Homo sapiens: one gene and its partner. Changing the gene in region 1 together with any one later gene gives a genetic interaction. Each region holds a gene or a part of one and is shown on either strand. Other genes may lie near its edges.

What was found.
Region 2: changes in UBE2N (region 1) and FEN1 are lethal when combined (synthetic lethality), as found in Homo sapiens cells (one study listed by BioGRID).

Annotation. Positions count from the first base shown.
Region 1 is NC_000012.12:93,404,326-93,412,827, forward strand, and holds the end of UBE2N (ubiquitin-conjugating enzyme E2 N), read right to left. Parts: intron 6,975-8,502; coding exon 6,728-6,974; intron 6,550-6,727; coding exon 6,409-6,549; intron 5,755-6,408; coding exon 5,714-5,754; 3' UTR 1,359-5,713; downstream 1-1,358. UniProt on the Homo sapiens protein: The UBE2V1-UBE2N and UBE2V2-UBE2N heterodimers catalyze the synthesis of non-canonical 'Lys-63'-linked polyubiquitin chains. This type of polyubiquitination does not lead to protein degradation by the proteasome.
Region 2 is NC_000011.10:61,788,514-61,798,648, reverse strand, and holds FEN1 (flap endonuclease 1), read right to left. Parts: upstream 5,739-10,135; 5' UTR 5,621-5,738; intron 3,309-5,620; 5' UTR 3,288-3,308; coding exon 2,145-3,287; 3' UTR 1,411-2,144; downstream 1-1,410. Other genes in the region: dolichyl-diphosphooligosaccharide--protein glycosyltransferase subunit TMEM258, read left to right, coding at 6,091-6,093, 8,047-8,156, 8,728-8,854. UniProt on the Homo sapiens protein: Structure-specific nuclease with 5'-flap endonuclease and 5'-3' exonuclease activities involved in DNA replication and repair.

The DNA of each region.
Region 1 (8,502 bases):
ATATCCATATGGTGTAATATTACAGTCATTAGAAATGACATTTGCGTAAGGATCTGAGTGGAAACTGATACAGCCTGTCGGAGAGCTACTGAGTAGTATTTTATCACAGCTGCATACATACCCTTTCACCCAACAGTTCCACTCCTGGGAGTCTAGTCAACAAATGGACAAGTTGCACAACCAAGCTATGGTCAAATATGTGTGTTGTAGGATTTATGAAACTGGTACCAATTTAATATTCAAATGTGATTAAGTCATGGCAATCTATTTACTGGATACTTTGTGGTTACCAAAGAGCTATGTGCTGCCACAGGGAGTCCTTTCAATAGTGATTGAAAAAGGCAGAACACTACTAGACAGAACTACCTGTTTTATGCATGTATTGGCATACACTGAAAAAGCTTAGTCACTTAAAATGAGGTTGTACAGATTGTAGATTTTGTTTTTAAACGCCTGTATGGTTTAAAAAATGTTTTGGGAAATAGACATGAGCAGGGCAGAGAACTACAACCTACAGGCCAAACCCCACCCCACTGCCTGTTTGTACGGCCAACAAGTTTAAAATTTTTTTAATGTTTTAGGTTTTTTTTTTTTTAAAAAAAATACTATGCCCATTTGTTTACAAATCGTCTGTGGGTGCTTTCTCACTACAATGGCAGAATTCAGTAGTTGAGACAGACCTATGGTCCACAAAGGCCGAAATATTTACTGTTTTAGGAGAAAAAAACAACATGAATTGTAATAACTTGGACTTACTTGGTTGCTCAGTCCTGATGTGTCCTGTTAAAACCTAAGAGAAACAGCACCAAGTTCAATCTAGTGCAATCAGCCTATCACATCTAAGCTGCTTTTGCCAGATCTGATATCTACTCCCGACCTTAAGCCAGGAGACTTTGTAAACTTACTAGGTTATAATAAAACTTAAGAACTATCGATATTTACTAATCTACATCATGGAACTATTTCAAAAGCAGTCATATGGTAAGATGGATCAGGAGTCTTTAAAAATAAAACTGAGAAAGAAAAATCATGTGATCAATTCAGTAGTAGAGACAGAGGTTGGTATCAAGTCTATGTTCATACACTTACCAGTGCCACCCAGCAGGGCCATACAAGACACATGAAATGAGATCAGCTCAAGGGTGACAAGATGAAACTGGGAGAGGGCCGGGGAGACCCGAACTCTTAATATTGGATTCCACACAAGAGGAAAAATTTTAGTCCAGCTCCCAGCATGGCAGCTAATGGCAAGTTAGTACCATAAAGCCAACTCTTGGAATATACCTGACTTCCACGATAAAATGGAGATGAGTGCAGGGGTGAGTGTATAGTTAAGAAAACAAACAATATATTACTAGTCCAGGTGGTAGATGACAGATTTTTATTATTTACACTTCTCTCAAATTATTACATTCAGCATGTTTTGCTTTTTATGTTATTTAAAGTATAAACCCTCATATAATTCCCTAAGATGGGTGGCATGCCAAGTAGCTAAATGAAATATCATCCCAGCCCAAAAGTACTTATTCGAATGAAATATTACATTTTTCTTAAATAAAGCAATAAATTAGGTACCCTATTATCATGGTATTTTCTTTTTTGGCCAGCTTTTCTAGATAAGGTTGTATTGCTACTGCAACTAACAAAAAAGATGTGGCAGGGCTGGGCACGGTGGCTCACGCCTGTAATCCCAGCACTTTGGGAGGCCGAGGCGGGCAGATCACGAGGTCAGGAGATGGAGACCATCCTGGCCCAACATGGTGAAACCCCGTCTCTACTAAAAATACAAAAAATTAGCCAGGTGTGGTGGCAGGTGTCTGTAGTCCCAGCTCCTCAGGAGGCTGAGGCAGGAGAATCGCTTGAACGCGGGAGGCAGAACCTGCAGTGAGCCAAGATCATGCCACAGCACTCCAGCCTAAACTACAGAGCTAGAAAGTGGCTAGAGCAGCCAAAAAAAAAAAAAAAAAAAAAAAAAAAAAAGGTTCCTGAACCATTCAACAGAAAAATGAGGCCTATTCCTATCATTTCCTCGATCCAATTTAGTTCCACTTAGGTCACTGTGTTTATAATGTCTTTTAGGACAGATTTCCTTCCCCATTCTCCATCAAACAACCATAGCACCTGTGACTTTTATCTGTTGGTTTGTATTTAATCTTATTTTTAAGTGCTTCTTTGAAATTGTTTTACAAGTACATTCTTGGTCTAGAGTAAGGTTCTATATAGTTGGCCCTCCATATCCATGGGTTCCACTTCCGTGGATTCAAACAACCAGACAAAATATTCCAAAAAACATTGTGTCTGTAGTCAACATGTATATTTTTGTCATTATTCCTTAAACAATAGTGTAACTATTTACATAGCACTTACATTATAATAGGTATTATAAGTAATCTAAATATTAACATAAGCGGGAGGATTTGTGTAGATTGTATGCATATACAACATCATTTTATTCCAGAGACTTGAGCATCTGCGAATTTGGATATCCAAAGGAAGTCCTAGAACCAGTTCCCGACAAATACCAAGAGATGACTTTACTTTAGACCTAAGATCTTGCTAGACAGCCTTTGAGAGGATGAAGGATAACTAGAGCAGAAGCAAATCGCAGCGAAGTAGACTACAACAATCAAGTCAAAAAACATAAAGCTCCTATCAACACCTCAAGATTTTAGAAAAGCCTCTTAACGGGCAATTTTCTTTTAAATAAAGACTGGGTCCCACTATGTTAGCCAGGCTGGTCACAAACTCCTGGACTCAAGTGATCCTCCTGCCTTGGCCTCCTAAAGTGCTGGGATTACAGGCATGAGCCACTGTGCCCGGCCTGGGCAGTCGATTTTCAGGAAGCCACTTAATGTTCAGATTCTTTTCTTCTCTCCCAGGACTTTGCAGATGCTGCTGTTCCCTCTGCCTGGAGATGTTCATCTGGCCTGAATCCAAAAGTCTGTCCAAGTTACTTCTCTTTTCCATGACAGAGTTACAACTATTTGTCTGTCCCCCTTCCCCATTAGAGTATATGGTCCCCAAAGGAAAGCCCCATGCCATTCACTCACCACCTAATCATCCCCAACAACTAGTGGGCAAACATGAAACACTTTTGTTGAATAATGTGTTTCCTTTAGCCCAGGGATTACAAAGTCAAAGGCTTACAAGGGGGAAGGACTAGCAGGTGTGCTCGGAGGGGACTCTAGCCAACTGGAGAGTAACTGGTGAGAAGACAATGACATGCTCTTAGGGTGTCTGCTACTCAGATCCTCTCAGTTAAGTCCCGTGCACAAAGGTGGGTCAGGTCTACTGTTGCCAGATCTTCAGATCATTCAAAAGTTACCCGAATTCTGGATTTTCATGCAAATCTCCCAATTTTTAAAAATGTTGGCATCAAATTCAGAATGTTTTAACCAGCCACACTGTGTGGGCCAGGGAAAACAGGCCCAAAGGCCAGGTGAAGCTGCAGTTTTCAACTGCTGCCTTGGCCTCTCCCAGAGCCCCTTAAGTCCTAAGAAGGCTCAGTCAACACACTGGCACTCGTTTCATCCCACTGGTTGAGAAAGCAAGTCTTAGCAAAGTAATGGGGGAGTCTTACCAAAACTGCAAAGGAAAAAAATATGATACCATGAAATTAGAAATTCACTGCATTTGAAATGAAAATGACTTATTTCTGTACTTCTATAACTCACAAATTTAGCAGACATCATTTAGACATTTTTGTAGTGCAACAGATTTAAATCTGGAATTTCATGGTTTGTAAATCACTATGTGATACTAGCTATAACCATGAGCAATATTACGGGCAGTAAATGTTGATTTCTATTTCGTTTCTTGAAGTTTTGTGTGGTTCATTTTTAAAGTGAGATTCAATTTCCTTAGCTATAGTCAAATGTACCCTTTAAACAGCCCAAGAATTGTTATAAATGACAGCTGCTATCAGTTTTCAAATTTTACAATATTAGGGTTGTTAACTATTTCATTCTGAATTAAGCTAACATTTGTTACCAAGCAATGCATTTATTTGGAAGGATACCAGTTACCAGTCATCAAAAGCTTTTGTATGTTGAAAATGTAATTTTAATAGTTAATTCTTCATCTTACATAGGAGCACAATAAAATACACCACAATCTGAAGAAACTCCAGAATTACGAGAATAAGAGTGAAGAAAATTCAAATGGGCTACAATATCCATTACCTTAAACTGCAAGAGACAAGGTTGCAACCCGAAGGTTAACATTTATGTATTTATGACTGGCTACATTTATGACTTAAAAATAACAAGAATCAGGAATTAGATATGGAGAGAGGTGGGAAAGAACAGTTTTGTGAGGGGAGGAATTCGTCAATAAAGAAGAAAAATTACTGAATTCCAAATTAAAGAATAAAACGAGCTCCCACAGCAAATACTGGAGGGATGAAAGCAAGAATCATTAACTGAGGACTTGATACTCTCAAAGGGATAAACCTTTCTGATGACACACAAGCTAGATAGTTGAGATCTGCTCATCAGGTTTATAAGGAAGACTCACAAATGCCTCAGCAAATCCCAAATGATCAGATCAGTGTTTCTTAACACACATGAAAGGTTACAGATGAAATTTTCAGATAAGAACCAAGAAAAATGTCATAACCCAAATTTTAGGCAAAAATGTGGCACAACTGTGAAAGTCCTACATGTCAGTCACAACTGCTATCTTTGCTGTGACTTTCCTGTACAGTAATTTTTAAACATTGTGGCAAGACACCAATGATCATCTAATCAGACAACACAAACACATTTATTTCAAATTCCTAGAAGGTTAAAAAAAGGTCAGATACTGATGCTTTATGCATGCTCAGGGCCAGTTTATAAATACTCCATTCAGTACTATCTTAACACAAATCTGCATCAGTGAAAAGAAACTGGCAAAATCCACCTCTTGCCATTCAATTTGTCAGATGGTGAAGACCAAGAAAGAATGTTCCATCAGTTTCAATTTTAAAATACGATTGTCAAATTGGGAAAATGAAATAAACACAGTAAAATAAACTGTACAAAGGCAAAGTAGAATAACAAAAAATATTTTACTAAAACATAAGATTTACAGAAGTTTCCAGACAAGCCATACAAAATGGTCACAAGCTTTTTTTGAAGGGGGGAATCTACACTTGACAGCAATGTTATTAGTGAGGGCTGTGATGTTTGTTTAATGTTCCCATTTTGGTTCCAACAATCAAGCTTGTCCATCTACAGCGTCTAAATAAAGTTAGACTTGGCTAGAGCATATTCTAAAGACCTGGTTAGCTGCTTTTAACCAATGCAATTAGATCACCAAAAAAGGGGGAAAGGAGCCCATAAAATTAAACTACCTCCCCCCTCAAAAATAAAATAAAATAAAATAAAATAAAAACACCCACACCCCTGCAGCTAACCTGACAACTACCTTCATTCACAGTGCTTTATACTTAAACCAGGATGGGGGAAATGAATAAAAGCAGGGAGGGGCCACTGCTTTTAAACGTTTCACAACAATCCAGATGATACTTCTAGCCTCTGCTCATGCTTTATGACAGTGAATCAGGACAAGACATAGATTTGCTAATGTGCATTTAATCACCAAAGGACTGAAGATGTCTGGGCTTTTTTATTCTGTAATGTTTCTAAGACTGTGTCCATTAAATGCAAACAAAGAGGAGGAAGTCTTGGCAGAACAGGAGAAGTGATGCACACTTGATGATCGTATCAATTTAAATATTATTCATGGCATATAGCCTAGTCCATGCTCTAGCTGTAGACAGAAACAAACATACGATTATTATTTTACTTAGTTCAATATGTTACTTTCCAAACTATAAATGGCAAACAACCACTATTAATTATGGAAATGTCATGCTGTAATCTGTTAAATTCACGCCTTTTTCTATAAATTGGATCAGGGCTGAAAGATTTTGTAAATGTCCAATTACCAAAACACTACAATAAAATTAAGAAGTTCTAGAAAATTCAAGAGGATGAATCAAGTTGTCCATTTCTAGATACACAATTCTCCCCACTAATTTTCTTAAAATCTGTAGCAGAAGCTTCTTGACTCCAAATTCCGTAGCCATAAACAGCTGAATACTTTAATCAAATGGGTTACAAAAACAGTTCAAGTTTTCCAGTATTCTTTACATATAACTAGATAAATGGTATGCACTCAGTATTTGTTAAACCAGGTGTAGTTACAAGAGACTCCAAGATCTTTCAATTACAGGTTGTCTTTATATTTGGGGGGTCCCATAGCAAGCCATTTTGTTAAGACGTATTTACATACTATAAGCAGGATCTCACTTATTATACTTTTTTCTATTTCTTTTCCTTGCCAAGAGCTTTAGAAAAGTTTAAGTGGTAATACAAATTTGTAAAAGTGGAAGTGGTGTGAAGGAGAATGAATATTAGATACCTGTTTCTATGGCTTGGGCTTCGTTGGTCTTCCACTGCTCCGCTACATCATTTGCTAATGGATCATCTGGATTGGGAGCACTTAACAAGGCCTGGATCGATAGCAGAACTGTGCGGATCTGCAGTGCTGGGGACCACTTATCTATGAAGGCAACAGGCCCAGTATGATAAAGCATGAAAAAAACAGGCCCAGAACTGCTTCACTTCCCTCCCACAGACCTCTCTGATCTTTGTATAATGTTTACATTCTAAACATGGAATGCTTAAGAGAAAAAGGAGAAAGCTTAATAATAGCATATGCTGATAAAGATAACACTTACCTTTCAAAATATCTAAACATATTCTTCCCAACTTGTCTACATTAGGATGATAAATTTTGGTCATGAAACGTACTTTAGGGGCTGCCATTGGGTATTCTTCTGGAAGGAATAGTTCAAGTTTAAAAGTCCCTCCCTCAAAGGGGGAATCCTGAGGGCCAGCAATGACCACATGAAAATAACGGGCGTTGCTCTCATCTGGTTCGGCTTTGATGCCAGGAACTGGTTCTGCCAGCAAACGCTGGGTTTCCTATGACAGAAAAACAAACACATTTGTGAAACAAATGTCATTTTGCTAGACACCAAAAGTAAAATTAGAAAGTTCATCTCTTAGAACTACGCATAATAGAACAGCTCCAATCTCCCAACAGATTTAGCTTATAAAATGCAAAATTCAAAAAAATACCATTTAAATAATTACAACCAGCTGAATGAAACTGCAAGCGAATACTAATGATGTTATCATACATTTTGGCTACAAATGTCTACAAATATGTTAATAAAATTAGCTTAATAAAACTGATTTTTTACTCAAGTAAAATAAAGTAACATTAGGATTACATAAGTAAGGCAACTTGCTCTAAACTCAACCAAAACCAAGCTATTTAAAAAGTAAAATTAGCTTTTTTGGTGGTTTTTTTTGGCTTGTTTGTTTGTTTTTGAGACAAGATCTCACTTTGTCACTCACGCTGGAGTGCAGTGGCAAGATCTTGGCTCACTGCAGCCTCGACCTCCCTGGGCCCAGGTGATCCTCCCAACTCGGCCTCCTGAGTAGCTGGGATTACAGGTGTGCGCCACCACACCTAGCTAATTTTTGTATTTTTAGTAGAGACGGTATCACCCTGTTGGCCAGGCTGGTCTTGAACTCCTGGCCTCAAGTGATTTGCTCGCCTTGGCTTCCCAAAGTGCTGAGATTACAGGTATGGGCCAACACACTCGGCCAAAAATTAGTTTTTAAACCCACTGAAAACCTCCCCTCTGAAAAATGTAACGGACTAAAGAAAGGAGATAAGAAGAGGCCCAGGTACCTGAACAGGACTAAAGAAATATATTTAACAATGCTGATTACTCTAAAATTGACAATTAACTTCAGAGGAACCCTTAATACTCCCAACAATCATACCATTAGTTCTCTTTTTCATCATTCTCCCTCTCCCCTAAATAATTGTATTATTATTATTTCTCTTCTCTCTTCAAACCTCCAGCATCTCCATCCCCATCCTCACTTGTGGCTGATGTCCTGCTTCCTATTTCATGACAAGTTAGATACTTCCATCAGTTCCCACTGTAGCATTTGGACATTTCCCTGCATCTGCACCCATACACTCTGGTTTTTCTCCTGTATAGATGAAATGTCACGTACTCTTGGCTAGGGCCAATCGGTCTTGAGCACTAGATCTTACTGATCTCTGAAATGTTTGTTCTTCGGTACCATAAAGAAATAGCACTTGAACATAAATTTAATTTATTTAGTAAAGCCATTTTTACTTCCTGCAGAAAGGGTACACTCGCCAGGAGTTTTGCCACAAGAGTATACTGAACAAAGGAGACAGGGTCATTTATAACCTGACGCGTCCACCCTACTGCTGTGTCCGGTTTCCACTGGCTGGAACGGGATCTCACATTCTGTATTTGTCCTGACTGGCTAGCAACTTAGAACTTTTTAAAAGAGGTAAAGGTAGAGGGGAACAAAGGAAGGAGGAAGTAACTTGTGGAATGCTGAGAAAGGTAAAAACACTTTTAAATAAGGAAGAGGAACAGGCTATGACCTAATGCTT
Region 2 (10,135 bases), on another chromosome or scaffold:
ACACAGAAAGTCAGATTAACAAAATTCTATAGGAGACAAACTTACCTTCAAAAGACAAAAGAAAACCACTACATTCTTGACCACCACAGGGTATAAGCCCTTAATTATTAAGAGCTACTGCACTGAGGCAATAACTCCTAAGAAATCTTAACATTTCGCCAGGCAAGGTGGCTCATCCTGTAATCCCAGCACTGGGAGAGAATGGCACACGTAATCCTAGCCTTTAGGAGGCCAAGGCGGGAGGATTGCTTGAGCCCAGGAGTTTAAGACCAGCCTGGGCAACAGTGAGATCCCATCTTTACAAAAAATTGAAAAATCATCCAGGCATGGTGGCCTGTGCCTGTAATCCCAGCTGCTTGGGAGGCTGAGGTGGGAGAATCACTTGAGCCCAGGAGGCTGAGGCTGCAGTGAGCCAAGATCGCACTACTGAACTCCAGCCTGGGTGACAGAGCAAGAGACTCTGTCTCAAAAAAAAAAAAAAAAAAGAAATCTTACCGTCTTTAGTTCCTATCACCATTACTGCAGATTTAGAAGCAATCTACCTGAATCAGAAAATAGAGCTCAAATAAGTTGTGTGGCTTGGTATAATCTGGGAAAATCAGTTTCAAAAGTTACCTGCCCTTGGGATAGAACTTTTTGTCAACACCAGTTTTCAAAAAGTACCCTAGTTATGAGGCCGTTGCTGGGTAAACTTTATCCCATTCCAGCTTCAACCAGAGGAACCTGTACATCCTAAAGTTTCACATAAGATTACACTTGAAGAATAGGTTTCTCCATTAAAAGACTTGAAAACTACTGGTCTTCAGGCTCCCTACCTGTTTAATCTGTCAAGACATTGCCAGCTTAAATTTCGGACAGTTACATAAGTGTCCCTGTTAACTTCAAATGGCCCTGACAGGAATGCTAAAACGTCAGACATTCAAATGGGCCAAGCTTTATCAGGATTATAAAACTTTCAAAGCTCAAAAACATGCCATCTCTATGGGAAACAGTATCTTGGATTTGATGTTACAAAAGGAACAAGAAAATGGTTTCTGAATGGCAGCTTTCAGTTTACAAGTAGTGGCAAAGTAAATGCTTGGATGTTATGAGGTAGTTGATCTAAATTGTGAGGCTTTCTTAAAGGCACTCCTTTGATCTCATGGAGTGAGAGACTAGAAATCTATTCAACGTATTAAAACTCCTCTCCCAGCAAAATAAAATAAACAAAACATCCTCCTCCTAATGGCTGAAGTTCCATCTAGCTGCTATGGCCATTTTATGGAGCATGGTGCCATCTTGTGGCCACTCTCAAACCACCCATTGTTAATCAAGTGCAATTACAGCATGTTAAGAGTGAAAAGGAAAGCTATTTGGAGCCATGGTCACTTGGGATATTTTCAAATGTTCTCAAAGAACATGACATTTTGGTTACTTTTAGAATTTTATTGACTTTTTTCTTCATAACTTTAAAACAAAAACAGCGCATGAAAACCAGTGTCTTATTCCAAAGTCTCAACTCAGCTGATTGCCAGGTGAACATCACCATCTTACTCCTCTGAATAACTAGACACAAATTACATAGCAAGTTCGAGTTTCTGCCCACCCAAGACACAGCCAGTAATCAGTCACAAACACAGACACAGCCAACTCCAGGGGCTCCAGCTTTCTGCCCATCTTCTCTCAGCAGTTCCTCCCATCTGCTAAGATGCGCCTTCCTGGTGGCTCTCTCTCAAGGTGGGTCAAGGCTGAACAAGACAGAAAAGCACAGTCTAGGTCCACCATCACCTCCCACTGGCCACCAGTTGGCCAGCCAGGAAATCATTTCTGTACATCTTTTGTCTCCCCCTTTTATCTCCCTCTCTCTTCTCCAAAACTTGTTGCTATCTATCACTTTCATGTAACAATGGACTTAGTGTCCATTAAACTGCCTGAGAAGTGGTTTGAGCCTGACATATTTTCCTGAGCTAAAAAAGGAAAAGTACCTCTGTGGCCTTCTTGCCATTAAGATCAAGTAAAAAAGGGACTAGCACTACTGAAAAGGGTCACGCTAGAAAAGCCTTAGAATCCTCTCTCCACCCCGTGAAGGTTTCTCTAGCTGTAGCTCTTAAGGGTACAAGACGGCAAATATTCTGGGGTGAAGGAGGTATAATGGGGAAACACATTTATTTTCCCCTTTTAAACTTCCCTGCTGCCCCAGTCTTTGCCTTCTTCTTAGTGGATCCCTTGGGTTCTGGCTCCTTGCGCTTAGCTGAAGAGAGTGAGCCGGTCACCTTGAAGAAATCATCCAGGCGGCCCTGGGTGCTGCCTTGGCGGCTCTTACTCAGCCTCTTGACCCCACTGCGGATTCGCTCCTCAGAGAACTGCTTTTCACCACACATGAACTTGATCAGCTCTTCTTCATTTGGCTCGCTCCACTTCAGCTCCACAGACTCTGGGTCCAGCACCTCAGGTTCCAAGAAGAGCTGGTGAGCCTCCTTGTGGAGCCAATTTTCTGGCACAGGGTACTTGTTGGGGTCAAGTCGCCGCACGATCTCCTCGATGCTCTTGTGCTTCTGGATGAGGTCCACAGCCCGCTTGGGCCCAATACCCCGGATACTCTCACAGTAGTCACTGCCTAGCAGGATGCACAGATCCACAAACTGTTCCTGGTTCAGGCCCAGCTCCTGCAGAATCCGGCTCAGGTGGAATTCCTGGATTGGCAGCTTTTTGGCTTCACTGGCAGTCAGGTGTCGCATTAGCACAGGGCTGCCGAAGGTGAGGCAGTCCATGTCCTCGGTAGCCGCAGCATAGACTTTGCCAGCCTTCACCAGGGCAGCACAGCTGGCCTCTGCCTCACTGGGTGCATCAAGATAAGGGATGCCCATGAGGCTCAGCAGATGTTTGCACTCATCATTGTGCTGCTTAGTGACCTTCACCAGCCGCTTAGTGAATTTTTCCACCTCCTGCTCGGCCCCAGCAGCCTGAGCCTGCTGCAGCTGCTTCTCTGCCTCAGCCCGCCGCTCACTGCGTTTGGCCAGCTCGCCTGACTTGAGCTGTGGCGGCTTGCCATCAAAGACATACACGGGCTTGATGCCGTTCTCCATCATGCGAATGGTGCGGTAGAACATGCCCATCAGGTGGCTGGTGGTCTCACCCTCCTCATTCTGCAGCACATCCCCACCCTGGCGAACAGCAATCAGGAACTGATAAATGCTCATAGAGGCATCAATGGCCACCTTACGGCCAAAGTAGCTCTTGATGTCATTCTCCCGGATGGCACTGGGGGCCACATCAGCAATTAGTTTGGCCAGGCCTTGAATTCCCATGGCAACACAGAGGAGGGATGACTAAAAAAGAAAGGCAAGTCAGAGACGGAGGAAAGGAGAAAGGTTATAACTGGTGTTATCTCACCAACTTCATGCCTTCAACTAAATTCCACACAACAAAAAGGACACCATGTCAGCACTGCTAAAGATAAAAAGATGAACAAGGTCCCCATTCTCAAAAAACTCAGTCTAGCAGGAGAATTTACTCAATAGTAAGGCTCAACGAGTACCAGAAATTGAACCACGTGCTTAGAGAAATAAGATACTGTTGATATTCTAAGGTAGCAGCATTATTTATTACACAAAAAAAACCTGCAACATAGGTCTCCATCAAGGACCACAGAAGGCCAGGATGCTTGGCCTGGCTTGAGGAGTCCAGGGACCATAATGGCAGACCTGAAAGACAGGCAAATACACCAGCTAAACAAACAGATCTGATTTGTTTTGAGTCTCTGGAGAACCCTGACTAATAAGGCAGCCTTGAAAAAGGATTGCAAACATATCTGAATGGAGGTGATGTGGCTTTCTCACAAGCTTCTCTAAACTCTCTTCATCATCGCCTCAGCACATAAGAGTTTCTACTTTTATTATAATGTTGCTAGAGTTTCAAGTCTTTCCCTTTGCGTTTTCTCGCCACCACTCAGTCTGAAATGTTAACTCCATGGCTCCTCCCCAGGTCCTGATTTAGGGGTCTGGCATGCTGTAGTCACTGGGCTCAAAAGAGTATTGCACTTCAGAGTTCAGTGTTTCCCAGATAGCAGTGTTTCCCAAATCACCCTCACGATTTTTGCTACTTCCAACTAAAACCCGTACTTTCATTCACTTAGAATTTTTTTTAAAAAACTAAACTGGAAAACTCATAAGCAATAATATTTGTGTTCTATTAGTTATATTTTAATATGTATTAAATGTATAACTATTAAAAAGGATTTTTAGGGGGTGCAATTTAAAATCATCTTGCCATCCTGGCCAACACGGTGAAACCCTGTCTCTACTAAAAATACAAAAAAAAAAAAAATTAGCTGGGTGTGGTGGTGTGCACCTGTAATCCCAGCTACTCGGGAGGCTGAGGCAGGAGAATCGCTTGAACCCAGGAGGCAGAGAATGCAGTGAGCCGAGATTGTGCCGCTGCACTCCAGCCTAGCAAGAGAGTGAGACTCCGTCTCAAAAAAATAAAAAACTCATCTTGTGCCCACTGTTGGTATGTGTCCAATACTCCAAGAAATATTCTACTGGGGCCAGGCACAGAGGCTCTGGGCAGTAATCCCAGCACTTTGGGAGGCCGTGGTGGGAGGATCACATGAGCCCAGGAGTTCCAGGCTACAGTGAGCTATGATTGTGCCACCACACTCCAGCCTGGGCAACAGAGCAAGACCCTGTCAAGAAAAGAAAAGAAGACAAAAGAAAAGAGAAAGAAGAAACGAAAGACTCCATCAGGCCTTTTCATTGTTCCCACTCTTTCTTCACAGGGTTCTTTCTAGAGCATCAATGACTGTTCAATTCTTCCTTCTAATTCAGTCCAAACACTTCAGCATGGCATCACGATCTTTCATGTTCTGGTTCCCAACCTAACCCTACATTCTGGGATCTCAACAGAAAGCTGGAATAAGGCCCGCCTTTTCCCACTTTTCCTTAGCTGTGCCCTCCTCTCGCCATCCTCTCACGCGTCCTTCCAGGTCCATCCCTGGATTATTAATCAATTAATAATTAATTGACAATGAATTATTCATTTGATTAATATGAATAATTCCCCTGTGAACTGCAGCGGCAAAAGCTCTGGCCTTGAATCTAGGCGCGGCATTTACCATCCGTGTGACATTACCAAGCCACTGAGGTTTATTTTCTCGTCTACAGAAGAAGAACGATTACCATGCCTGTCTCTCAGGGCTGCTGCCAGGGTTAACTGAGACAACAGACAGAAACCTCTAATGTCCCCTCTCCAGGCCTGTTCAACCCTTCGGCTCTTGCCTCAAGCCGGCCGCGCTGCTGGAGTGTGGACTGAGGACCAGACCATGTAGCCCTTGATCCCCTCACGGCGTCCCACAGACAGGTAGGCAGGAAAGGGGCCTAAACAACTCAAGTGTCAGAAATGTTTCTCGTCCAAGGTCTTAGGAAAAATACAACACGACCCCATAAGGTGGAACTTATTACCGCTTTTCTACAATGGAGGAAAGAGAGGCTCGGAGCTTACGCGACTGGCCCAAGGCTCACAGGGGGAAAAGTGGCGGGACCTCTTGACTGCGAATCCCGCGCACTCCAGACCCCGGCTCCCCACGGCCCCCAGCGCCAAGCGGACCCCGTCGCTCCCGGAGGCGCTTCCCATGGGGTCTCACCTGGCCTTTGGGACACGCGGCCTCGGCGGCTAAAGCTTGGTTCGGGGTTGCCCCGGGCAGGCGGTCCTAAGCTCGCTCTCCCTTCTCAGCTTAGCGGCGGGTGGCCTGACGTTCAGCCGCCTTCCAAAGCCCGCGCTCCCGTCACGTGACCTGCTCGCCACGCACAGCCTCTTGGGGCGCGTAGTGCAGGCTGCGTCCCCTCAGACGGCTGCTCTCATGGCAACCAGTCCCTCCAGGGAGAACAGAGTCTCTCAGCGACCCTGGCGTACCCTTCTCCACCGCTTGTCCCCACTCCACCCACACCAGGTCCCCGCAGGCCCCTGCTCCCTCTACACCCGAAATCGCAGGACTACAAGTCCCTCAATGCCACTTGCGCCGGAGGCACTTCCTTTTCCGGTTGTGCTAGGCGCCTGCTCCTGCCGACGTGTTCTTCCGGTGGCGGAGCGGCGGATTAGCCTTCGCGGGGCAAAATGGTGAGAGCGTTGAGGGGAGTTCCAGACGGAGATGCGAGGACCCCTCGGGGTCTGACCCACACCGCGCTTATCTCCTCAGACGCCGGAGATCCAGAGGGCTAGACGCTCCTGGAACCTCCGGCTTGGGCTGAAGGGTGGGGAAGGGGGAAGCCCCTTGCCATGAACTCCTTAGGTTTCTCAGCTCGCGATTTCTAAGGGCGAGAGGCGTGGGGCGAATTTTGAATACCTTCCAGTTTGTATATCTCTGTTATCGGTGGTGTGTTATCTTTATTTGGAAAGTTCTTCTGCCGAACCCGTGCCCATCCTACAATGCCCTGGGCAAATGTTTATTGGTGAAGCACTTCCAACTCTCAGGCACTTGGCCAGACTTTCCTAGGAGCGCCCACAGCCTCTGTACAGATCTCTGGCCACGTTCCATGGACTTCTTTGTTTTCGGCCACGCCTCCTAGTGACCACCGTCTGACGCGCATCTAGCTCTGGGATGATGTCTATTCATCTTTGTATTCTCAGTGCCAAACAGAGGGCCCGTAATTGGAAGCTCAATAAATGGCAGTGATTGTCTTTATCATTTTGGGGGAAGGGGGCCGTGATTGTTTACTGAATTGAATTCCAGTGTCTCAGAACAATGGGGGCAGTTTACTTCTCTAGAGTTGTTATGTTCTGGATTTTAGAAGCATTGGCTGACCGGTGACAATGAAGTTAACATTTGTACAGATCTTTACGTTTACAGCCCTCTTTCATAAAAGACATTATCTCATCATCTTCCCTACAGCCTTAGGAAGGAAGCAAATACCTGTTGAGCAAAATACTCCCTGCTAGGCACTAGATGCTTTGATTCATCATCTTTCTTATTTTTCAGTTCTGTGAAATAGATATTACAGTCGCTTTACTCAGACTCAGATTACTCAGAACCAGAACTTGAATGTCTTGACCATAGCTCACAAGATTCCATAATAGCATAGGTAGTGAGGAAAATACTGAATTAGAAATTGAGGGCCAGGCGCGGTGGTTCACTCCTGTAATCCCAGCACTTTGGGAGGCTGAGGCGAGCGGATCAGGAGGTCAGAAGTTCAAGACCAGCCTGGCCAGCAAGGTGAAACCCTGTCTCTCCTAAAAATACAAAAAATTAGCCGGGCATGGTGGTTCACGCCTGTAATCCCAGCTGCTCGGGAGGCTGAGGCAGGATAATCACTTGAACCCAGAAGGCGGAGCTTGCAGTGAGCCGAGTTGGCACCACTGCACTCCAGGCACTCCAGCCTGGGCGATAGAGCAAGACTGTCTGGAAAAAAAAAAAAATTGAGCCTGGGCGCGGCAACTCACACCTGTAATCTCAGTACTTTGGGAGGCCGAGGCAGGCAGATCACCTGAGGTCAGGAATTCAAGACCATCCTGGCCAGCATGGCAAAACCCCATCTCTACTAAAAATACAAAAATTAGATGTGGTGGTGCGCACCTGTAATCCTATAGTCCCAGCTACTCGAGAGGCTGAGGTATGAGAATCTCTAGAACCCGGGAGGCAGAGGTTGCAGTGAGCCGAGATCGTGCCACTGCCCTCCAGCCCGGGCGACAGAGTGAGACGCCGTCCAAAAAATGAGACTCCGTCAAAAAAAAAAGATATTGAGATCTGGGTACCACCAGTCAGTGACTTATAGCGGGGGTTCTCAGCTTGGTGTCTATAGACACTGGTCCACAAAGCTCCGGAAATTGTAGGCAAACTTTTTCTTGTATGTGGTTTTTCTCAGGCAGAGAGTTCGTACCTTTAGTCACGTTTTCATAGTGGTCAGATTATTGGCCTCAGAAAATGCTAATAAGGGCCATTGATCTGCAGCTACATTTCCGGGCTAAAATCAGCCTCTGTTTCACGGCAGCACCAGGCTCCTTGATAACCGCATGTTCTCTCCAGGCTGAAATCGTGGGATTCTTTGATAGCTCTGATCTCTTTCCCTCCTCTAGGAGCTCGAGGCCATGAGCAGATATACCAGCCCAGTGAACCCAGCTGTCTTCCCCCATCTGACCGTGGTGCTTTTGGCCATTGGCATGTTCTTCACCGCCTGGTTCTTCGTGTATCCTTTCACTGAGCAGCCAGAGGACCAGCATTAGTGATGTGGGAAGCTCAGGGAGAAACCACGCTAGGTACATGGACCCCGCCGGTTTTGTACATTGGATTGGGGCTGAGAGAAGGTAAGGAGGAGAGGAGGGCTAGTGATGCCCAGGGGCAGGTTATAGCCTTATTTCCCAAGTTCAGGTGAGCTCAGTTTGTTCTTTGGATTTCCAGGACAGTGAGCAGGGGACCTGGCTGGAGTGGAGGTGGGGAATAGGGGTGCTACAGTTGGAAAGGTGGTATAAGGAAGGGTGCACTCAGGTGTCAGGAGGTCTGAGGGCTAGTCCCAGCTCCGGCCCTCATGAGCTGTGTGACCTGGGGCAAGTGACCTAACTCCTCTGGGTCTCATTTTCTTCATGGCAGTGGAGCACCAGAGTCCAAGGCATCTCTTAGGCCCCTCTGCCTGGCTGCTCTGAGCCAGATAGGCCTCCCAGAAGGCATTGAGCCAATGCTTTTCTCCTCAGATTGCCGTGGGCTGGGCTCTCTGCACTCCACAGTCCACCCCTTCGCTTTGCCTTAACTGCTGTGCCCAGTTACGAGGTCACCTCTACCAAGTACACTCGTGATATCTATAAAGAGCTCCTCATCTCCTTAGTGGCCTCACTCTTCATGGGCTTTGGAGTCCTCTTCCTGCTGCTCTGGGTTGGCATCTACGTGTGAGCACCCAAGGGTAAGAGCTGCAATGGGATGGATGCGTGAGCCTCCAAGGCACAGCCCAGGGAAGCCTCCCCAGAGTCAGGTCAGCAGGGTCCTTAAAGCTCTTACCAGCATGACCCCTTGGTTGATGGAGACAGACTCAGTGGAATGGGTAGGGACACTAGACATTTGTGCCTCTTTCCCTGCCCCTCATACGGATTTGAGCCAAATGTGACTCTCAGTTCTGAGCTCACATGGCCCAAGGCCTCGATCTGCCTTTGGGATGTACCACCTAGAAGTGTGGACGCAGGCATCCCATGGCTGTACATTTACATTCTTAGAAGTCAGACCCCAGTGACTTGGAGAGGCTGCTGGGAAGTCAGCTGGCTGAAAGGGGGTCAAGATCCAGGGCTTAAAACTTGCTGCAGACAATCCACCAAACAGGCCACTAGGAATCAGCTCTGGTGGCTCATCCTCAGAGGTGTGTGCTCAATAGCCCTTGCCCCAGGAGCACAGGGGTGCAGGGAGAGAAGGAGGAAAGAAGGGCCATTGGTCTTATTTTGATACCCCTCTCCTCTTTTAGGTAACAACCAGATGGCTTCACTGAAACCTGCTTTTGTAAATTACTTTTTTTTACTGTTGCTGGAAGTGTCCCACCTGCTGCTCATAATAAATGCAGATGTATAGCAGTCCTGTCTGGGGCCCATTCTGCAGGGGTGGTGGGTGCTGGGACCTACATTGCTTCCCCAATCTCTTCCCTTTCCCATTTCTCATCTGCCTTTCACAGTTCCTGCTGCTGATCTACTTAAGGGGGATGAGATTTGTGTAGCACCGGTGTTTTGTCATTGGAATTTAAGGCTTACCTGTGGATAGGGTCTGGGCCTACCCTTTTCTATTGTTTCTAGGACAAACTTCTCTGGGAACCCACATCGGTCCATTCTGCCCTAGGCCAGTCCCTGCCATAAACATAGCCACCATTCTCTGTGCTGGGGCATCCTCACCAGGCTCAGCTTCTCCCCCTAAGAAGGCTTTTCTCCTCAGTGGCTACTTTTAATGCAGGTGGGCAGCAGCGGGTGCGCAGGAGGGGAAGGTGTGGCCATGGGAGAGGCTGATGAGTCCACTCCTAGCCCCAATATGAAGCTAAGAGGATAAGGGGTATGAAGCATCCATTTGGCCCTCTGGTTCAGGCGCTCAGAGATTCCAGGCTTCTCAGGAAGAACTTTGAATTCCAATTGGCCCTAGCCTTATAGGTGACTCCTCTCCCACCAGACCAATCCCAAGAAGAGACAAGGAGGCAAGCTCAGA